Linked DNA regions of Homo sapiens: all the other regions are linked to region 2. Evidence: fine-mapped expression QTL. A gene starts in region 2. Each other region holds a variant in brackets. All regions are shown on one strand. Distances are between the middles of the regions. Region 1 overlaps UBE3D (ubiquitin protein ligase E3D). Region 2 holds the start of RWDD2A (RWD domain containing 2A). Region 3 overlaps UBE3D (ubiquitin protein ligase E3D).

The links. PIP is the estimated chance that this variant, and not a neighbour inherited with it, causes the effect. A credible set is the group of variants that fine-mapping cannot tell apart.
Region 1: its variant is the best candidate, but not a certain one, in a credible set for the expression of RWDD2A in whole blood (GTEx, PIP 0.60).
Region 3: its variant is the best candidate, but not a certain one, in a credible set for the expression of RWDD2A in whole blood (TOPMed, PIP 0.51).

The regions. Positions count from the first base shown.
Region 1 is chr6:83,057,532-83,065,440 of GRCh38, forward strand. UBE3D (ubiquitin protein ligase E3D) reads right to left here. Exons shown (of 10, transcript NM_198920.3): 2 at 295-491. Among named protein-coding and RNA genes, the nearest start is that of UBE3D, 4.4 kb to the right of the region's middle. The variant A/G (reference allele first, on the strand shown) is at 4,288.
Region 2 is chr6:83,189,812-83,197,720 of GRCh38, forward strand. RWDD2A (RWD domain containing 2A) reads left to right here and starts at 3,546. Exons shown (of 3, transcript NM_033411.5): 1 at 3,546-3,632; 2 at 4,501-4,841; 3 at 5,784-7,909. The coding sequence starts at 4,641. The coding sequence ends at 6,461. PGM3 (phosphoglucomutase 3) reads right to left here and starts at 3,454. Exons shown (of 13, transcript NM_015599.3): 1 at 3,368-3,454; 2 at 998-1,203. The coding sequence starts at 1,201. RefSeq lists silencers at 3,105-3,174, 3,475-3,844 and an enhancer at 3,417-3,916.
Region 3 is chr6:82,903,781-82,911,689 of GRCh38, forward strand. The region is part of intron 9 of UBE3D (ubiquitin protein ligase E3D); the gene reads right to left. Among named protein-coding and RNA genes, the nearest start is that of UBE3D, 160 kb to the right of the region's middle. RefSeq lists a silencer at 7,137-7,337. The variant A/G (reference allele first, on the strand shown) is at 4,036.

The DNA.
Region 1 (7,909 bases), 130 kb before region 2:
CCAGAAAATTTTACAATTAAAGAAACAAGGCAGTGGGTAAATGGGAAATCTCTATACTTTCTGCTCAATTTTGCTGTGGGTGGAAAAGAAAGAAGGAAGGGAGGGAGGGAAGAAGCCTCAGAAAGGTTAAGTAACATGTTCAATTGCATACAGCCAATAACTGGCAGAGCTGACAAAGACCCTAGAGCTTCTCAACCCCTTCACCTGGGAAAAGTTCAACTTATCAAAGGAAAAATCACCTTTGGTTTATAACAAAAAGGTAAATACAGCAGCAGAAGTGCTAATATTACTCACTTGTGCCTAATTTTGCTTGCGTCTGCAGTCGCAGGTGCAGTCCATCTCCAACAACAAACTGTAGCCCACGGCAAGAGGAAGGTACAAGCCTGACCTCTGCTGGAAGCTGGATTTCTGTGCAGCCTTCAGGGGTTTTCATCTGGAGTGAAGATGGCATTATGGAAATATTCATGGGCATACCTCCTTCTTTCGGTTCTCTGGTAATTAAAAACAAAACCCAAACAAATTATTTCTCACAATGAAAACCACATGATGAAAGAAACAAAAATGGCCAAGGATCTCTTTCTTCCTCTTCAATAGGAGCTCTAAAGTCACTGCCCCAGAAAAACAGCAGCAAGCAGATCATAAAGGAAAGCAACCTACACTAGATTTAGATCTGATCAGAGTGCCCTTCACCATCACCATAATATGCAAGTCCTGGGACAGATTTTTGGTTCTTCCTTCTGAGAAGAGCACTAAAATAATGTTTTATAGTAAATCAGAGCAAAGTACTGTTATTTCATATACAAGATTTTAATAAAGAGACCAAGATTCAGTGAAACAATGATACAAGACAAAAACCTGTCAATTTTAAGAATAAAAAGAATTAATGAAGAAAACGATACAGTGATGTATGAATATCAGGTGTGAAAGGACTTACTAATCCAATTCAGAGCAAACACAAATTACTCAGTATAGGCAATAAAGAGTAAAACACAGTCCCTGTCAAAAGCCCCCAGGCATCAAAAGTATAGAGGGGATAAAGGCATCTATGGAAATGACCCTCCTCTGAAACTGCAATACGCTTAGCAATGCAACAGAGGTACAAAGTACCATGGCTCCCTCTTAAGTGCAGACAGCAGGTCATCCACATGGTGTCAACTAAGTGCAGACAGCAAGCCATTTGCTTGAGTGTCATCTGAGTACAGAGGGTAGACCATGTGCTCAGGTGTGGATCTTGGTTAGGCCTTAGAAATCTGCCTTAGAAAATCTTATAGCTACTTTCTGGCTAGTTCCTTTTCAAAGCATATGGATCTGCACTTAGTTAGCAATACAGAATATTAAGCATCTGAGTTTTTTGCAGGGATGACAGTTTCAAACCTGAGTCAAAAGTTCAATTTCAAGAAATGGTGTTTAAGAAATAATGATCCTCTAAAACAAGAGTCAGCAACTTTATTTCTGTGAAAGACCAGATAGTAAATATTTTAGGCTTTATGAGCCATGTATGGTCTCAAAGTAGAATACATATTATACTTTTTATTTTTTAAAAAACAACCCTTAAAAAATGTAAAATCAGCAGGTCGAGGTAGCTCACTCCTCTAATCCTAGCACTTTGGGAGGCTGAGGTGGGAGGATGGTTTGAGCCAAGAAGTTTGAGACCAGCCTGGGCAACAAAGCAAGGCTCTGGCTCTACAAAAAAATAAAAAATAAAAAATCAGCTGGGTATAGTGGCACGCACCTGTAGTCCTAGCCACTCAGGAGGCTGAGATGGGGAGGATCACTTAAGCCCAGGAGGCTGCAGTGAGCCATGATCACGCCAATGCATGTCAGCCTGGGCGACAGATCAAGAACCTGTCTAAAAGAAAAAAAGATACAGAAGAAAAATCCAACTCTTAGCTCACAGGCTGTACCAAAACAGGCTGCAGGTAGGATTTGGCCAATGGGCCATAGTTCTCTGACCACTGCTCTAAAGATAACACAATGTCCATTTGCTACCTCAATGACTTTCAAACTAGACTGTGTAGAGTTGACACTTCCAAGTGCCGCAAGAGATACCACTGGGTTCCTAAGTCCCCATTGCCACCCCATCTCTGGTTTATCACATTTCTTCCCAGTCCCAAAAACTTTAGTCATTTTATAGGGCCAAGCAAGAGAAGCATCATTGCAAGGGTGGTGACACAGTGGCCCAGCACGGATTTGAGAAACTAAGCAGACTGTGGAGGGCATCCATAGGGCCAAGCAAGGGAGGCATCAGTGCAAGGGTGGTGACACAGTGGCCCAGCATGGATATGAGAAACCAAGCAGGCTGTGGAGGGCATCCACCAGGAGGACCACTCAGCAGGGGTGTCAAATCCCAAGACAGGTGAGGAGGAAATCTGAACAGGAGGTGAGGCCAGCTCAGGATGGGGTTTCAGAGCCTGTCTTAGCTCAGCTGCTATAACAAAATACTATAGATGGGTGGCTTAAACAACAGACATGGCAGAGTAAGGAAGTTCAGTGCCTCTTCCTCTTCATATAAGGACACTAATCTCATCAGGGGGGCCCCGCCCTCAAGAACTCATCTAAATCTAACTACCTCCCAAAGCCCCATCTCCTAACACCATCACTTTGGGGGTTAGGGCTTCAACATGTACATTTTGAGGGGACACAAACATTCAGTCCATAACAGGGTCCAAGCAGGTGAGGAGAGTGTCAACAATGAGCAGGGGGAGGTGGCAAAGGATGCCAGCAGACTATTAATTACATAGAGGGAGACTGACAAAATAAATAAATGCCACTAGGACAATGAGGGCCATGATTCTCACTGTGGGAGAATGGAGTTACAAAAAGAGAAAGCGAGGAAACTAGAATAGACCCTATGGTGGTGGGGCAGAATTAGAAATACCTGTGTGAAGTCATGGTTTTCAATGTTTACAAATAGATACAGTAATATTGATGGTTGTAAATGCATGTATGTACATAGGTATGTAGGCACAACCATACATAGACATCATATATAAGTCATACACACATACCCTAGTTCTGGGAGAAGCGACATCCAACAGTGATGAGTACACTTAGTGCCCAGATCTTGGTTTGTAAAGGCCATTTTCTGCTTTAAAAAACGAAATGAACAAACCAGAAACAAAGTTCCTCAGTAAAATGACTACATCCAGGGCTGTAACAGGGAAAGAATGAAATATGCCTGGAACATGTTGCTGGAACATGAAGAAATCAAAGAATGACAGGTACCTACCAAAAAAGACGCAGAAACCATCCAGAAAGGACTTCCTTGGCCACATCTGGTATAATATGAACAAAAAAGTAGCCCATTGAATAAAATAAAAAATAAAACCCACTGAGTAACCCACAGTAAGAATCATGTATCCTTACTGACACACAAATGAATAAAATGAAACTCTGATGAGGAACAGGGTATTTACATAATCTCAGAATACCTCTCCAATTACTGATTATGAAGAGAAAAAGAGTAACTTTAAGGTAGAGAAGCATGGCAGACACTATCTTACTTTAAGTGCTCAAAGTTAACATAACCAATTTGATGGAACAAAGCAAAATCATGTGCCACCTGACAGGAAGCCTCACTTCTGTTATATTCCTGCCAAAGATGCAAAATCTGAATCTTGTCTTGAAGAAACATAAGACAAATCCAAATGGAAGGATATTCTACAAAATGATTGTACTATCATCTTGCAAAGTGTCAGGACCATGAAAGTCAATGGAAAATGAGGAACTCTTCTAGATTGAAACAGACAGAGGAAGCATGACAGTGAAATGCAATGCCTTATTCTGAACTGGATTCTTCTGTTATTAGGGATATTATGTAGACAACTGGTAAAACATGAATGATGTAAGATGGTAGCAACACATTTCCCAATTGTGAGTGTTGGATGATGGTTCTTTAGGAGAATTCCTACTTTAAGACTAAGTTTGATTGACATAGTTCATACAATAATTTCATACTTGAGGCTTTCTTCACCATTGACTTGTATTCTGTCAGGTATCACAACTGCTTAAAACTATCCAATGACTTCATCTCTCACTCTAACTACAAGCTAAAGTCCTTTCGATGGTCCATAAGGCACAGTGGTATAGCAGGCCCTGCTGCTACAAGCTTTGGAGAACCTGTTGTTAAAATTCTAGGAGTTCTGCAAAGCAGGTCAACTCACCTCACCCAGTTGGTAGGCTGAAGGTCATACGTGGTGAAAGTATTCACACCAAAGAAATCAACAAATGCTTCAAATCAAGACCTTAGTTTGTCTTTTTGTTTATTTTCATGGAGAGTAGGTTATT[A/G]AACATGTACCAGCACACTGCCATAAGATCTTTTACTATGTGTTCCCCCAACTCACCCGCATCTCTCTGAACTAGGCACCCTTTCATACTCACTTTCTCTCAAAGGGAAATTGTCTCCCACCAGGTATGGCAGTTCTACACCTCACCAGTTACAGTTTAATACTCAAATGTTAGTTTCTCATTTGAAATAAAAGATTGTAACTTTTTTCTCCCCATTCCTTTTTTGTTTAATTTTTTTCTCCACTTCTATCAAATATATATTTATTTTGTATATTCTCTGCCGCCTCTTCTCTACTGCCACCATTAAACCCTATGCTCAACAAAGGCAGGTGTTTTTGTCTTTGCTGTTGTTACTGTTCATGGCTGTATTCTCAGCACTTAGAATTTGAATTTTTGGCACTAGAGTAAGAACACAATAAACATCTGTGGATTGAATAAATGAATGGCCAAAGTTTATCCCAAAATGCTAAGATATCTTAATATAAATAGATCTTTACATCTGTGAATGTAAACTTTGGAAGCCAGACTCTTTTTCACAACCCACTATGGCAGGAATTAATCCATTCCTGAGAGAGAACTCACCCAACCATCTCCATGGGAGGGCATTAATCTATTCAAGAAGAATCTGCCCTCAGGAACCACGCACCTCCCACTAGGCCCTATGTCTCAACACTGCCACATTGGGGATCAAAGTGAGAAAACATAGGGACAAAACACATCCAAACCATAGCAGTTAGGAACAAGAACACCAATATTTAAATTAACTATAAAATATACTAAACATTTTAATTAGAACACACAGATCATCAGAACAGATTTAAAATCACCCAACTATATATTTTTAAAACTAGCATACAGTTTTATGCTATTTTTAGGGAAATACAGTATTTTTACAGCTTTTTGCTTTATACAGAAAGACATAAGAAAGGTTAAAAAGGTAGAAAGGACACACTATGCAAACAGTATAGTCAACTGATTTCTCATGAAGACTGAGTTATTTTAATGGGAGAAATGATGGCCTTTTCAACTGATGGTGATAGAATAAATGAATATCCTTATACCAAAAAAAGAACTTTGATCCCTACTTCACTGCAAACACAAAAATGAATTCAACATGATCACAGATCAAAATGTGAAAGCTAAAACGATATAACTCCTAGAAAATAAACCTGCCAAAACATCTTCACAGCCTTAAGGTAGGCAAAGATTTAAGACACCAAAAAAACTAACCCTTAAGGAATAAAAAAACGATAGAGTGGACTTCATTAAAATTAAAATTTCTGTTCATCAAAGGACACTATCAAAAAAACGAGGCAGGGCATGGTGGCTCATACCTGTAATCCCAGCACTTTGGGAGTCCAAAGTGGGTGGATCGCTTGAGTCCAGGAGTTCAAGACCAGCATGGGCAATATGGTGAAACCCTATCTCTACAAAAAAATACAAAAATTAGCTGGGCATGGTGGCATGCAACTTGTATCCCAGCTACTCCAGAGGCTGAGGTGGGAGGATTGCTTGAGCCCAGGAGGTTGAGGCTGCAGTGAGCCATGATCACACCACTGCACTGTAGCCTGGGCAGTAGAGCAAGACGCTGTCTAAAAAAAAAAAAAAAAAAAAAAAAAGAAAAGAAAATGAAAAGTTAAGTCACAGATAAGAATAGTCATATATTCACAAGGCATTTATGTGAGAAAGCTCTTGTTTTGAGACAGTATAAAGAACTCTCAATTAAACAAGACAAATAATCTGATTATGGGCAAAAAAAATTAGAAGATACTTTTAAAAAGAACATATATGAATTGCTAAAAAGCAAGTGAAAAGGCACTCAACATTATTAGTCATCGGTAAAATGAAAATTAAAACCACAAGATACTATTTTACACACACTAGAATGGTTCAAACTAAAAGGACTGATAATACTAAATGTAAGTCAAAATGTAAAGTAGTTGAAACTCATTTTTTTTCTGGTTGAACGTGCAAACTGGTACAATCACTTTGGAGAACTGTTTGGCAATTTCTCACAAAGTAACATGCACATCTATCCTATGACCCAGAAATTTCACTCTTAGGTACTTACCTAAAAAGAAATGAAAATGTATGTCCAAAAAAAGATTTATACAACAGTGTTATGACAGCTGTATTCATAATAAGCAAACTCCAGAAACAAGAAAAACATCCAGCAATAGGAGAACAGATAAATGAATTGTGGTATATTCATACAATGGAAAACTTAGCAAGAAAAAGGAATGGACTACTGATATATGCAGCCACATAGATGGAACGTGAATCTGAAAAATATTATGGAAGGAATGCAGCCAGAAACAAAAAAGTATATATTGTATGAATCCATTTATAAGTAGTTCAAGAAATGGCAAAACTAAGTCCAGCAAAGTTAGGTTTCTTTTTTTTTCTTTTTATTTTTTATTTTTTGAGACGGAGTCTCTTTCTGTTGCCAGGCTGAACTGCAGTGGCGCGATCTCAGCTCACTGCAACCTCCGCCTCCCGGGTTCACTCCATTCTCCTGCCTCAGCCTCCTGAGTAGCTGGGACTGACTAAAGGTGCGCGCCACCACACCCAGCTAATTTTTGTATTTTTAGTAGAGACAGGGTTTCACCATGTTGGCCAGGATGGTCTTGATCTCTTGACCTCGTGATCCGCCCGCCTCAGCCTCCCAATGTGCTGGGATTACAGGCATGAGCCACCCGGGTACCTTGCCTAAACAAAGGAGAGTAGTCCAAGGGAACTGTGAAAGGCCCCTGCATGAGAGGAAGGGAGGGTTTGTTGTGTGTGTGTGGTTTTTGTTTTATTTTGGTAGGGTTTGGGTTCCTAATTACTCTACAAGGTGCACCAGAATTGGAGATATTTGTCCAAATTCATAAATTTTGAAAGAGAAAAAGAAATACATTCAGAGTACTATTATTCCCATTTCAAGATTGAAGAAATTCAGATTAAATTATTCTAATTTCGTGAGGAAGCTAGCATTTGAACTCAGTTCTCACGCCATATTCCAAATTGCCACACCAGATATCTGGCAGATTTAGGGAAGAGGAAAAAATTAAGCATCAATCTACCTGTGGCACCGTGTAATACCATTCTCAGGATTTTAACTTCTAACTTACTCTCTTTGAAACAGCGATCACAAAGGAATAGACAAGGGGACCACAAATCATTAAAACTGCTGTCAAACAAAATAGAGAACATTTTTCCTAAAAGTTATTTGTGTAGCGAATAACAAGTTTGACGTTCTCACTGGAAGGAAGAATATGAATAAATGAACGAGCTCCAGTAAGAAGTCTACAACCTGTCTTAGTGGTTCACTAAACTCACGTTTATTGAATGATTGTGTGGTTTCTCTGCAAAGAGCAGTTTTGGACGAAAAGACCCGAGGTTATTTACAAAACAAGAAGCTCACATAGGAACTGATCCAGTAAGGAGGATCCCGAAGAGAGACAGACAAATCATTTTTTGCATTGTTTTGTTGGAAACGCCGGGCACTGCCAACAGTGTTTTACATCACTGTTCCTCAAATTTTAATGTGCATTTGATTCCTGGAAATCTTGTTAAAATATAAGTTTTGATTCCATAAGTCTGGTGTGGAGCTGAGACCCTGAATTTCTAAAAAGCTCCC
Region 2 (7,909 bases):
TAAAAAAGAAATACTGCCATTTGCATCATGGTTGAATCTGGAAGACATTATGCGAAGTTAAATAAGCCAGACACATGAAGACAAATACTGCAGGCTCATAACATACATGTGTTATGTAAAAAAGTGAAACTCACAGAAACACAGAGTAGTATGGTGGCGGCTAGAGGGTAAGGGAAATGGGGAGATGCTGGCCAATGGGCATAAACTTGCAGTTATAAGATGAATAAGTTCTGGAAGACTAACGTACAGCGTGGTGACTATAGTTCATAATAATATATATTGAAAATGTGTTGAGCGTACGTCTTAAGTATTCCCACCACAAAACAAGGTAACTATGTGAGCTAATGGATATGTTAATTAGCCTGATAGTGGTAATCATTTCACAATGTATACATATATCAAAACATGGTGTTGTATGACTTGAATTATACAATTTTTATTTATCACTTATACCTCAATAAAGCTGAAAAAATAATTGTGTCAAAAAGAATACTTTGATTAAAATCTAACTGTCACAAAGACTAGAACTATCAGGCGTCATCAATATTCTGCCAAAGCTCACCTGTTTGTTCATTCAGAACAAGAAATTATTGCCGAGCTATAAAAACCTGTCTGAAAATGTTCAAAATGTTTCTTTTCAAATCTTTACCCTTCCCCACCCAACCCCAATATCTTTAATCACTGCTAAGTTAACAAAGGAAACAATTTTCAATTACTGAAAATGTCTTAAATCAATAAATTTGGAAGGACATTGTTATTTCTCTAATATGGACACTCCAAAAAATGACAGTATCTTTTCATTCTTTCCACACCCTTAGGAATCATGAGCTTAATGATCATGCTCTTAAAAAAAAAAAGTTGTTTCACATCCAAAGCACATATAAATGAGAAGGCACATTCCTAGAATTAGAATTTGTACTTTAGGTCAATTTGCTCAGACACTAAGGCTTGGTCTTGTAAATAATGGTCTGCTTTATCAGGGCACTAAACCCATTACCTCAGGATTGTGGGACGCTGTTACCATGACTCCTATAGTGGATTTTGTCTGTTTTGACCTCAGGACAGCTAATAATCCCATGCGAAACATGACATGATCAAGATGTTCTGCCTTCGTTCGAAATCCAGCAGTCCCGTATTGAAGGATCAGTCCATTGGGCTTGGCGTGTAATGCTGAGTATTTTGTAATAGCACCTAAATCCATGTCTACAAAATTAAGAAATATTGTTTCGGGCATAACAAGTAATTTCTTAAGAACCATTTGCTTCAAAAACTGCCACCCCAAACGAATAGGTCTGTCTCATCCTGAACCTCCTCAAAGAACCCTATGTTTGACAGAGCAATGGGCAGGAGAGTAAGTCCTGTGGGTTAGAATTACCTACAAGATGTTGTCCAACTTGGTATGTCCACTCCTGGGCAGACTCAGGGCAGATAGCAGATTGTCCCCACTCTCCTCCCATTTTAGCTCCAGGACTATCCTGGACGCCGGGCACACTTAAATTGGTCCACTCTCAACTAAAATGAAGATTTTACACCTATTCAGAGACTCCAATGAGCTCAAAGATCATTTCATTTTACAAAAAGGGAAACTAACCTAAATTAACATAGATAGCTGGTGACGGATTGAGGCCTAAAGTCAGATTCTTGAGTGGACTGAAACTACATATCCCCAAATATCTGAGAAATCTTTGTGGTTCTTTTGCTATTTCTCCCAAACTACAGAGACATATTCTTAAAGGAAAAGCAAAAGGCAACAGTTTCTTCTCCAAGACTACCCAGATCTTTTTCCATTTGCTAAAAACAATCAGGACACCCTTCTAAGATGTTGCTCTAAAACTAGCAATATCTTCTTCTGAAAGAATGCCACCTTTTTCCTTTACTTTTAAAAATAAAACATCGGCCGGGAGCGGTGGCTCACGCCAGTAATCTTAGCACTTTGAGAGGCCAAGGCAGGCGGATCACCTGAGGTCAGGAGTTTGAAACCAGCCTGGCCAACATGGCGAAACCGCCTCTCTATTAAAAATACAAAAAAATTAGTCGGGCGTGTTAGCTGGCGCCTGTAATCCCAGCTACTCGGGAGGCAGAGGTTGCAGTGAGCCGAGATCGCGCCACTGCACTCCAGCCTGGGTGACAAAGGGAGACTCGGTCTCAAAAAAAAAAAAAAAAAAAAAAAACAGGCCAGGTGAGGTGGCTCAGGCCTGTAATCCCGGCATTTTGGGAGGCCAAGGCGGGCGGATCACGAGGTCAGGAATTCAAGACCAGCCTGACCAACATGGTGAGACCCTTGTCTCTACTAAAAATACAAAAAGTAGCCTGGCGTGGTGGTGCGCGCCTGTAGTCCCAGCTACTCAGGAGGCTGACGCAGGAGAATCGCTTGAACCCGCGGGTGGAGGTCGCAGTGAGCCGAGATCGCGCCACTGCACTCCAGGCTGGGCGACAGGGTGAGACTCCGTCTCAAAACAAACAACAACAAAAAATCGGCCCTTAGCCCACTAATACTGTTTTCTCTGGGATACTCCCATTAAGTGGAACTTGGGGTTTCCAACCTCAGTCAGTAGTTTTCCTTCAGTAGTCCATATACTACATTTCCTGGGTCAATTAATTCCCAATTAGCCCAGAGATGAGGAGCAGTCCGCCAGCTGCTAGCCTCATAATTTTGTTTTCTTTATTGTCCTTCATTGCTTCAATGAACAGAACTTGCAAGAAATGGTGAAAAATACTTGCTTTTGTCCAGTTGGAAAAAGCTGGCATTCAGTAAACTAATTTAGTTCAAGACAGTGATCAGATCTCTTTCCTAAGGATGAATACATATTTGTAAAAACTGAGCAGTCAGTTATGTGTCATGATTATTCATAAGAGTGTAAACCAGTCCTGTTAACTCCAAAAAGCCATTAAAAAAAAAAAGGTCCAGATAATATGAGTTCATCCTTTCATGCGTTTTAGGCCCTACAACTACTTTCAATGCCTCTGCGAATGCCTTTATTGAAAGCATATTTGCCAAATCCAGCGTCCACGCAAAAAGTTAAGAGTATCCCCCTACTCTCCATTCAATCTTCAAATCTCCTTGGTGCCTCTCTCCCGCCTACCCTCGAATCACCGCACAAGGGTGATTCCCGGCACTCCACCCTGAGGTCCCCGCCTAGGTCCACGTACCAGAGCCCCGGCAGGAGACCCGCGGCCCGTCCCGACCAGCCCGCCCGCGGGGCGCAGGGGCCTGTAGGTGTGTCCCGCGCGCTCCGCCGCTCGGTCAGTCGCCCGCCAGACCACTAGCCCCTCCGTCGGGCCGAGAATCTGACCTGTCCCGCTCCCACCGAGCCCTTGCCGACCGGTAGTCTCCCTTCTCAACTCCGAGCCTCGGGGCCCGGCTTACCTCGGTCAGGAAGCCCCCTTCACCTACACGCAGCGGAGAAGCGCCCAAGCAACAACGTCTGCACCCAAACCCAGTCCTCAGAACCGCAGACGTGGCCCTGCGTGGCTTCCGGCTCGTCGCCACGCCCCCTGGCCAATCACGGCAGAGGACTATCCGCCAGCCCCGCCCCCGCCTCGCCGCAGGTCGCGCGCAGCTGGCGCCTGAGGAACTGCGGCTGCGGTTCCGAGCGGGGTCTGGGGCTGTTACCATTGAGTGACCAGAAAGGGTGAGGCCCCCGCGGTGGCCCGGGGGTTGGGGCCGAGGGTCGCGGGCCCTCAGAGCACTGCGGCCGCGGAGGCACAGCCTCCGCCTCCAAATCCGGGCCTCTGGGGGCGGCAGGCCCTGCGTTCCTGGGAAGCCGGGGTTCCTAGTGGTCTTGGCTAGGGGCGGGGGTGGGGAATCAGCCCCGTCGCTGGGCCTCGGACAGGGCGACCTCGCCCACAGTGAGCGCCGCCGGCGGCCCGCATCCCCCTCTCCGACGTCGAGGTCATCTCCCAAACCTTTGAATCTGGGAAGCCTTCTCCGGCTGCCGTCTCCCCGGGTACCCCCTTCCCCCAGCTCACTGTAAACATCTTTTATTTAATGACCTCTGAGACACCCCCTACCCTTATCCTGGGTCCCTCGGGGCAGAGGCCAGTGAATCGTAAACGTCCGGAGCCCTGGAATGCGGCCCAAGCGAAAAGGCCACCGCGGTGTTGGGGGGGGGCGGTCCGCGAGTCCAGGACCGAGGGGTGGCGACTGGCGCTGGGGAACTCGGAGCCCATCCTGCTGGCACTGCGGCCTCTCTCGCCGCAGCGTCTGGCTCCGCCCAAGCCCGAGCCCCGGGTGGGATTGGAAGCCGGGCCCCAGCCTTTCCCAGAATTCAGGCTTGCAGAGCGTCTGCAGGTGTCTGCCTGCCACCTGCAGCGGGACAGTTCCAAACACCTGTTGAAAGTGCAGATTCCCCTATCTAGTGCGGGGTGCGGGAGGCGGGAACCCGGAGCCCGGGTACGCAGAATATGGGTTTTTACGGAGTGTTTTAGAGGATGTTGTGCATACTAGATTTTGGAGTCAGGAAATAAAGAAGAGTGCAAGTGTCTGGTTTGTGCCCCTAGCTCTCGGTGCAAAGCGTTCCTGCAGAATTGCTTCCACGTAAAGGGACCTTCGGGAAATTTCGCTGGATACCGGCTGGCATTGACAAACCCAGCGTCCCTGAGCCTTGTGAGGTTTCCAGGCAGGCTGATTGCGAGGCAACATGTCTGCTTCGGTGAAAGAAAGCCTTCAGCTTCAGCTACTGGAGATGGAAATGCTGTTTTCTATGTTTCCTAACCAAGGAGAAGTAAAACTTGAAGATGTAAATGCCCTGACGAATATAAAGAGGTATTTGGAAGGCACAAGGGAGGCGCTGCCACCAAAAATCGAATTTGTAATTACACTCCAGATTGAAGAGCCCAAGGTAGGTACCCTGATTTAAGTGTTTGCCAGGTGCCCAGTTTTTAATTGAAACATCTAGAACATGAGCTTTCTGTCAAGGAAAGATAGAAATATTCCAGGTGCATATTTCCTTGTTTGAAAGATACGGAATGCTCTATAAATTGTCTTCAGTAAATATCTTTAATTTTATGTAAACATATACACCTTTTTAACAAATATACCTGGAGTTTTTATTGACGCTATCTTGCAGTCTTATGCCATTATTATTTTGTTCACCCATCCAGTTGGACTACCTTTCACATGTATCATGATTTTCATAAATCTAAATATCTCCTGTAACATAACTGTCTTTTAAGGAGTGAATGAGTGGATTTTTTGATGGCACCATAACACAGAAAGCAAATATGGATGGAAAAATCTAAAGACTAAAAATGAATTTACCTCCATCTTCTGATCCATTTATCTCCAGCAACATTAGCATAGCATAGGTAATACGTGGACTGGGCATTTGAGAACCACTGTTGTAGCTATTTCCTACTCATCCTTCAGTTGTTATTCCCTCAGAGGAGACTTTCTGGTTCTCCAGACTGGATTCTGTCCCGCTGGTTACACACTTCAATGGAACCCTCCACTTTTCCATGGTAATGCTTTTCACAATTGAAATTAAATACTTGCTATATGTAATTATTTGTTTAATGTGTGTCTCCTTCACTAGGCCCTGGACTTCATGAAGGGCAAAAATAGTGTCTGGTTTATTCACTTTTTTATCCCAGCACAAGGGCACCTGGCACACGTAGTTGTTCAATAAATATTGAAATAATGCATAAAAGGAAGCAATCATGTATGTAAAGTACCTGGTACATTTAATAGTAGCAATAACATTTCTCAAAATCATGCAGTTGCTATTGATAAACTAGCTTATGTGATGTTATGGTATTTAAATCTATTTGATTTTCATTTTAAGGTGAAAATTGATTTGCAAGTGACCATGCCTCACAGCTACCCCTATGTAGCATTGCAGCTGTTTGGACGGTCATCTGAACTTGACAGACATCAGCAGCTACTTCTCAACAAAGGTCTCACTTCTTACATAGGGACTTTTGATCCAGGTGAGCTCTGTGTATGTGCAGCAATCCAGTGGCTACAGGACAACAGTGCATCTTATTTCCTGAACAGAAAGCTTGTATATGAACCATCTACACAAGCAAAGCCAGTCAAGAACACATTCCTCCGAATGTGGATCTACAGTCACCATATATATCAGCAGGACCTAAGGAAAAAGATTTTGGATGTTGGGAAAAGGTTAGATGTGACTGGATTTTGCATGACAGGAAAGCCTGGTATAATCTGTGTGGAGGGTTTCAAAGAGCACTGTGAGGAGTTCTGGCACACAATTAGGTACCCCAATTGGAAGCACATTTCCTGTAAGCATGCTGAAAGCGTGGAGACAGAAGGAAATGGTGAGGACCTGCGCCTTTTCCATTCTTTTGAAGAGTTACTCCTTGAGGCTCATGGTGACTATGGATTAAGGAATGACTATCACATGAATCTGGGCCAATTCTTAGAATTTCTCAAGAAGCACAAAAGTGAGCATGTTTTTCAGATACTATTTGGTATTGAAAGCAAAAGTTCAGACTCATAAAAAGCGATTAAGAGGCCTATGCCTGTAATTTCACTAAGTCAGTATTTCTGTTAATAAGACCAAATTAAAAAGGCTAGTGGCTGTGTAGCATCCTCAGTGCAAAACCCAGCTCCAGAATTTTCACCTGGTAACGAATTTCAACTGACAGTGAAATGAATAGGCCTTTAAACTTTATAACATTGCAATTGTGATGTTATCTCTAGGTTTTTGTGTGAAGTCATTCAAAAACTATTTCATTGTAAATTAATAAAAACAATCCATTTAACTTGTGAAGCTGATTTGATTGAAGAGGAATCCAAAGCCCATAACTAACATCAAAAATCAAACTGCAATTATGAATTGAGAAATATGAATAGCATTTGTTTCACATTGCTAGCACACATGTGACACACCCACTTGTCTTTCATTATTGGAAATCTAAATCAAGTTTAAAATGAGAACAGGAAGGACATGTTTACTTCCTTTTTTGAGACGGTGCGATCTCGGCTCACTGCATCCTCAGCTTCCCAGGTTCAAGCGATTCTCCTGCCTCAGCCTCCCAAGTAGCTGGGACTACAGGCGTGCGCCACCACGCCCAGCTAATTGTTATATTTTTAGTAGAGACAGGGTTTCATCATGTTGGCTAGGATGGTCTCAATCTCTTAACCTCGTGATCTGCCTGCCTCGGCCTTCCAAAGTGCTGGGATTACAGGTGTGAGCCACCGCGCCCAGCCCGTTTACTTCATTTCTTACTTTAAACTCCTATTTCGAGTGTTTTAGTAAAACTAGATCCTAATAGCAGTGGCAAAGGACTCATAGACATGAAGTCCCACGAGTTAAAAGATGACACACAATGCTATGTGTTCTGGCTGTTTATATCAGTTCATGATACTAGCAATCCTGATACCAGTATTAGTTTAATTCTTATCCAGAAAAGATAAACACATGGTTCCTTGTCTACAAAGTATTCGCCTGTTTCAATCCAACCTTTGCCTGTGTGCCAGTATGCATTACTATAAAGGGCAAGAGACTGTTGAGGGGACCAGTGTGGATATCTGCATCATTACCTTATTGGGAAAAAAAAAATCTAATTCTACAGTCCGATGATGTTACTGCCATCTCCTCTGAAAATTCCAAGCTCCACAGGCTTCACCAGGCTTTTCAAAATGAGAGTTTATTTTAATGATTAAAAACCGCTATTTAAGTAGCTCTTGCCAAGCCTTTTCATTACCAGGTCTCCATCCCTCCCCAAGTATTTCTGCGAGTCTCATGTGCTAAGAGATGTCTTGAGCAGCCTCTGCAGCTTTCCGTGTTTCTGTGGTCAGCTACTGCTGCCCTTTCCCGGGAGGCATTCCATTCTCCTACTGGGTCCTCTCAAGATGCCAAAGCTTGGTGCTGGGATTTAGGAACACATCCTGTTAGATGTCAGACAGTGCTGCTTGTGCTGGGGAGCCTACAGAACTTCTGAT
Region 3 (7,909 bases), 290 kb before region 2:
ATTAGCCTGTTTGTTTTAAAGGAGGGGTAAATAATGGCTTATGAGGAGTTTATAAACGGTCATACCACAGAGGGGAACAAGCTGAAAAGCTGAAGAGGATGCTATGTGATGTTTCACCAGAAGCCTTGGGTTTTTTACTTTTAGCCACATGGAAGGCAAAGGGCGTTCTTTTATACAGAACTGTTCACTGAACTTTTCCAGGTCAAGGACAGTGTAGGGTATGGGACCAGAAAAAGACTCTCAGCATTCAAAGCGGTAGATTCTCCATGAGAAGCTGGAAGTCTCAGGTGGCTACCAGGAAGGTGCAGAAAGGTGAATTCTAATTGATATGAAAAGACTGGAGAATTGGAGATAAAGTACAGTAAGTCCCCAGTTAATGTTGTTGATAGGTTTTTGGAAACTGTGACTTTAAGTGAAATGAAGCATAATGAACCAATTTTTTATCATCAAAGTTATAATGAAATGACATTGAAGGAAACAATATTATTCAAGGACCTGCCAAACGTCATTTTACTTAAAGTCACAGTTTCCAAGAACCTATCAACCACGTTAAACGAGGACTACTGTACATTACACAGAGAGAAGTAAAAACAGATTAGTGTAAGAAGTCAGCAGTTTGTACACTGCTAGAGGTGGTGGGAGAGCAGAAAAATATAGGCTCTTGGGAGAGCTGAGATTGAATGCCTCCCCGACATTTACTAGCTGAATGACCTCTTGGAGCCTTAGCTCCCTCCAGTTCTGCCCACCAGTGGTTGTGGGGATTAGTAATAAAGGACATAAATGGCCTGGCAGGCCATGGCACAGATGAGGCCTTTGATAAATGGAAGAGCTTAATATTATTATACTAAACCTAAGTGTTTCTTTTAAATATTGCTGCAGATGCATCTCTTTTGCTGTCTGCTGCTAATGAACAAATTCATGTTTAATTGTTTATTTTTAAAGGAGAAGCATAAATGACTAATTGTGTATATAAATATCCAAGGCTTAAATAAGGCTTTTTTTCCTATGTTACCCTAAGTAACAAAACATCTACCAGTGACAGTCACTGAAATTGCAGATATTGCATCTGAAGAAGAAACTATAAACCTATAGCATTTTCAAATATAAGAATGTAGGTTGCTTAGTGTAAAATATCACCTGGTCCTTGAAAAATAACTTGAAGCCCAGAGGCCACTGGCTGGATTGTGTAGGGGGCGTCTAAAGGTTTGTAATGGGCAACACTCCTAGGGATTCAAACCAGCACATCCTGGATTGCTGACATAATCCACTCCTGAGAAATTCAACTCTGAATCCAGGATTAATGATTAAGCCATGGACCTTTAATATATGAAACTATTTGGCTGAATAGTCCTTTACTAATACAGGCACATCTCACTTATTCTGCTTTACTTTATTGTACTTTGCAGATACAGCATTTTTTACAAATTGAAGGTTTGCAGTAACCCTGCATTAAGCAAGTCTACTGGCCCCCATTTTTCCAACAACATGTGCTCACTTCATTTTTCTGCATCACATTTTGGTAATTCTCTCAATATTTTGAACTTTTCCTTTAATATTATACCTGTTACGGTGATCTATGATCAGTGATCACTGATGTTACTATTGTAATTATTTTGGGGCACCACAAATCATGCCCATATATAGCCACAAACTTAATCGATAAATGTTGTCTGTTCTGTCTGTACCAATGACCAGCCGTTACCCTGTCTTTCTCCCTCTCCTAGGGCCTCCCTAACATCTCACACAAAACAATACTGAAATTAGGCCAATTAATACCCTACAGTGGCCTCTAAATGTTCAAGTGGAAGGAAGAGCCACACATTTTTCACTTAAATCAAAAGCTAGAGAGAAAAATGTTTGGGGCAGGTTAGATCAGTGGATACTAATTTTTTCACTGCAACATACCAACAAACAAGGCCCGCAAGACACAGCTCCTTACTCAAGTCTAGTCATCCCAGCAGTCCTCCCTCCCTGTTCAAACATCTGCTTTTGTTCTCCAATAAACCCTTAACAGTAACAATCTGTAGTGTACTTAACTGGTTTTTTTTAGCTTATAAAAAATTTCAAATGTTAATATATTCTCTAGTAAAGATACAACAAATCTACATACATTTATTACCCAGAAACAATGATTATGAGCTCACGGCCATTGGTTTCATCCAAATCCCTGCCACAGACCTCTTCTGAAGCAAATCCCAGTCCTATTACTTCACATATAATTCAGTATATATCTTTAAAAGAGAAAGACTACTATAAAAATAAAACCACAATGCCATGATCACATTTAAAATATCAATAATTCCTTAATATAACCAAATATCCTATCAGTGACCAAATTTCTCCAACTAGCTCATACATTTTTTTTTTAACAGTTGGCGTTTGTTCAAATCAGAATCCAAATGTGGTCCACATATTACAATTAATAAGTCTTTTACACTGCTTTTAATTAATAGGTCCCTCTTCCTTCCCTTTTTCTCCATTTGCAATTTGTGTTTCAAAGAAATCAGGCTTTTTGTTCTGCAGAGTTTTCCAAAGACTGAAATGTGACCACTTTTATGCTTTTAGTGTCCTTATGAATTCATGGATTTGAAATATATTTGATATGCTTTAATCCACTGCAGTCATTCTCACTGATACTCAAACCTGCCCATCTTTGTCAGTAAAAACCTCTTCAACTTAGAGCCTAAGTCCTTTTGACGTGATCCTAGTAGTTTATAATAATTTGATTACTTTTTCCCTCACTTATGGTAAGACAGAACTCAGTCTTGTCTTGTACATTTCTTATCTCAGACATAGAATCAGCCATTTTCCCAAGAAACATGGTTCCTTTTAGTGGGGAATGGTACTTAGCCACCACATCTGGAGATTGCCTTACTGCTTACAAAGCACTTTGAACACTTAACCTCATGTATACACATAAGACAAGCCACTCCCCTTCTGCAGGCCACTGCCTTCCCTTTTCAAAGTGCAGCAAGAAAACACCCTGCTTCAAGTGTCTTTGTATCCTATTTAGAAACAAGGTTCTAAACTACTCAGAGATGAATCTTTCTATCTGGTTAGCTAAGTAGGACAGGCTAGAAAATACTGTCTTAAAACCATCTTAACAATCGAGTCATTTTATCGGACAAACTAAAACAAAAGAAAGTTCATGAGTCCCTCCCTTTTCCACTGTAATTAAAAGGAAATAGCTAAGCTTTATTATCAGAAAATAGGAATGGAAAAAAGGATCTTTCTAGATAGAGAACTTAATTCTTTTTAAACTAGGTAAAGACATTCCTGTATGGGTAAAAGAAAAATGGAGGGAGGAGTGAGAAATAACTGCTTCCAGAAAAAGGCTCACCACAAAACTCCCTTGGGCATGGAATTATAAAAGTGACTCACTGCCTTATGTGGGGACAGGTTCCTGCTGTTAATTTGCTTGTCAAAACTGTGGAAGGATGAGGTCGGGCTGTTGCTGTGTAGGGGCTGTAAGCACTGGAAGGCTATGCCATAGAAAATTAAAGTAGTTCTGCATACCTGTCTGGCTAATTAGGAGGAGTATTTCTAACCTCTAAGGAAAATACTCTCTAAACTCACAGGATGTTTGGAAATGGAAACAAACAAACAAAATCCAGAAGGCATGTTTCACAGTGGTTTTTATAATTTAGATCAAATTTATTCAGATGGCCAAAGGTTTCTCAGTCCCTGAGTTTCCTGTAAAACTCAAACCAATTACGGGTAGTGGTGGGGGATGTAGGAGGGGAACAGGACTCCTACAATCAATGATAAAAAGCCTTAAAACAGATCCTTCACAAGAGAAGATAAAGCACATGAAAAGGTGCTCATATCATTGGTTGTTAGGGAAATGCAAATGAAAATCATAATGAGATACCCAGAATAGTTAAATAAAAGATTGGCATCACCAAATGATGTCACTGATGAAGACACGGAACAGCCGGAGCTCTCAGACATGGTTGCTGGGAGTGTAAAATGGCACATGCACTTTGCAAAAGTGTTTAGCAGTTTATTAGAAGTTAAATATACATCTATCCTACA[A/G]CCCAGCAATTCCATTCCTAGATATGTACCTGAGAGAGATGAAAACAGGTCCACAAAAAGATTTTACCAGAATATTTACAGCAGCCTTATTCAAAACAGCCCCCAATAGGAAACAACCTAAGTGCCCATTAACAGGAGAACTGATGAACAAATTGTGGCATATTTATTCAGTGAAATACTTCTCTGCAACAAAAAAGAATGAACTACTGATAAATGCAATAATAGGGATAAATTGCAAAAACATTATGTTAAAGTGGGAGGTCGAGACAAAAAAGAGTACATACAGTATGATTCAATTTATACAAAGTGCAAATATAGACAAAATGAATCTAAGATGATAGAAAATAGAGACAATGGTTTTCAAAGAGGAACGATTAACTGCAAGACACCTGAAGGGAACTTTATGGGAAATGGATATGATCTAAATCTTCTTTTAGGATAATGGTTACATGGGTGTGTATTAGTGGTTCTCAACCAGGGGACATTTGGCAATGCGTGGAGACATTTTTGGTTGTCATAACTAGGGGAATGCTACTGGCATCTGGTAGGCAGAGGCCCGGGATGAACAGGACAGCTCTCTACAATAAAAAAAAATCCATCTTAAAATGTCAATAGTTGGGTACAATGTACACTATTTGGGTGACACTAATGGCTGGACTTCACCACTATACAATTCATCCTTGTAACCAAAAACCACTTGTACCTCTAGAGCTACTGAAATACGAAAATAAGAAATAAAACAAAAAGAAACTCAGCAACACCTTTCCTAACTCCAAAATGTGGTTGAAGATTGGGGGAAAAAATTTCATATTTCAATCCTATGAGTTCCACTGTTCAATAAATGCATTACATATACAAACTGTGCTTAATACATGTTTATTAAAAATATTAGGAGAAAGATGGATGGGGTATAGGACTTCTTGTCAACAGCTCTCCTTTCAAATACACTCTTCCTTTCTTCCCTTCCTCCACTGCATAACTTACTCACGTACTATGCTACTCGAAACTTCCTGAAGGCCTCAGGGAGATATTTATACAGCCAGGGCACAGAGACAGTCCTGGGGTCATAAAGCAGTGTGGGACTGGAGCAGGGCCTGGCTCAGGCTGCAGGTGAGTCAGTCCAGGTTTCCCAGGAAGCCTCAGCATTTCACTTGCCCCTCTCTGTAGTGCCACACTTTTCCTGGCCCCATGGCTCTGTGCTCAATTAATGCAGTCTGAAGTAGTCACAGGGAGTGTGGCAAGTGTGCAGGTGGGTGAGGACTTCTGAAGGGGTTACCCCTGTCCCACAGGTCACAGTAACAAACTGGCAACGGACTTCTGTGGTTCTCTCTGAATCTAAGAGAACATTCCTGATAACAAGTTAAAAGTTGTTCTTCAGTGGAAAGAAAAATGGATCCAAAAATATGCTGTGAACTAGTAGTTTAGGGTACCGGTACTATTAACTCTGATGTTTGCAGAAAACAAGTAGCTTACAACTCAGGTTACCAAAGTTGAATTGCATAAACATTTTCTTCCTTGGGGGAATCTGAACTGTATAACATTAGCCTTTCTGCCAGTGATTTTCAGGCCTTCCCTAACACTTACAATGGTACCCAGAATATATTCTCTGCTAAGCCTGGAGGCAGCCCTGTACAGCTAAGCCATTCAAGAGATATTATTCAGAAATGCCTCCAGAGGAGATGCTGCAGAGCTCCTTCAATATTCTGGCCCTCTCCACAGCTAAGAATTTTTTTCCTTAGGTTTAAATTAGCTGACTTTTAACATAAGCATTCACATCTGCTTTCTTTCCCTTTGTGCAAGGGTAGCTGCTTCAAATTTTGGGTGGGGCAAATTAGAACTCTTAGGTTGGAAAAGCTGCTCACAAAAACTTCATCACTTACTCACTCTTAGAAGCTTCAAGTTTTGTACTTGTCTGTCACCTTCATGTTGATTCTCTGGGATTCGAGGTCTATGAGCAATGAAGCCCATTAGCTAAATTCTTTTGGAAACCTGACAACATCGCACTGTGCAGTTGTTCCTGTGGGCACATCTGCTGCACAGTAGGGGAATGAAATTGGATGCGATCCTTCCCCTTCCTCCCAACTTCACTGTTTAAAATGGCACTGAGTTTTAGAAGTGATCTTGGGGGACTAGAAAGGCACCCTTGCACTTTGGTCACTACCCTCAACGTGTTCAAATGCTCCAGCTTTATGTTCATCATCGATTAAACACTTGAATTTGTGATTCCCGAAAGCTACTTCTTAGACTGGGATTCAAGAAAAGAGGAAAAGCACTGGTGATTTTAAATTCCCACACTTTGCCTGTGACACAGTCCACACACACAGACACTGAGTAGGGAACCAAATGCCTCTTCCTGACGACACTTTGTGCTTTAGATTTCCCAATAAAACCCTTGCGTATCCACTCCTGCCTGCAAAGGGACCATTCATGTGGAAGCACAACATCTTATCTAAATCTCTGTATATCTCTCTATGAGGTCTTGTACACAGAAGGTTTTCAGTAAATATTTGTTGCCTGGAATGAATGATTGGACAAATTAATTATATAACTAGAATCTAGGTTTATTACTTTTCTGCATCAACATCAGAGAAAATAACCTTTTATAGGATGGAGCTGAAAAGAGACTGGGAGATTTGTTATTTTCAACCCCAGTACTCTATTACTTCCACATTACTTGGCAAAACATCCTGCCCAGAAAATGATCTGCTCTTTAAAACTTTGCTCAGAGCTCTGCTCTGTACTGCCTCACAAGCCTCAAAGTTGAGACCAAGGTGCCACAGCCCTCACTGCTCTCCTGGTTCTGCAGAGACGGCTGTCACAGAGCAGCATTCCAGAGGTTCCATGGTGATTTCCTATTTTTTTTTCTTTCTTTCACAAAAGCTGTTGGGGTAACATTGCAAGAGTCCAAGAATTAGAATTAGGTGATACATTTTCAAGTTGAAAACATAAAAATAAACTCAATTGGCAACTGATTTAAAATGTAGGAATTAGGCAGGTGGTGACACTGACAATGTGAAGATTGTTCTGAGTGTTATTCTGAACACTGCAGTATAGTTGGGATCTTAACAATCACTGTGGCTCACCAATTTTTCAAATGTTTACTTTCCATGCATATTTTGTGTCATCCTAGTCTGTTTAACTCAAAAGATCTAATCCCACCAGATCACCTATAATTAGAGAGTGATGATGCATTCTTAGAAGACAAATATAGACACCACAGAGGTGATGCATCAGCAGTCTAAAAATAATTAATTCTTATCCTCACAAGGCCACCTACACCAAGACACTTGGGAACAGTTCACTATAGCCATAATGTCATAGAAGGATGGAAAAATCATTTTTCTTATCTGTAGAAGTAGGTCACAGCAAGAACATTTTGGCAAAAAAAAAAAAAAAAAAAAAAAAAAACTCAGGGGGGACATGAATAGATTTTGTGACAGTCTTTTCATTTATTACCTTAATGCAAGACTTGATCATCAGTTCATTGTGTACTCTCCAATCATCTTCCTACATGGTAAAGGACCAGAATTGAAGTTTTGAAATGCAGTATTTGGGGACACAGCAAAAAGCTTCATTACCAATATACTGCTTCTAAATGGAATAACAAGGGCCCAAACATTTGAGACAATAACTGGTTTTTGTTGTTTTTCTAATTACATGAAAATAAAACTTATAAATTAGAATACTTCTCACAAGTCTGAGCTAGGCAATATATAGTCACAGAGGCTAAAGGTTAGCTGAAAGTTTCCCATAGCAACCTTTTAAACTCAGCACATGGGCCACATGTGAGACAGATTTTATTTCTTTTGAGACTTTCATTTAAACACATTGATCAGCTCTTTCAACAATGATCTGAGTTTTGTGCATTTCACTA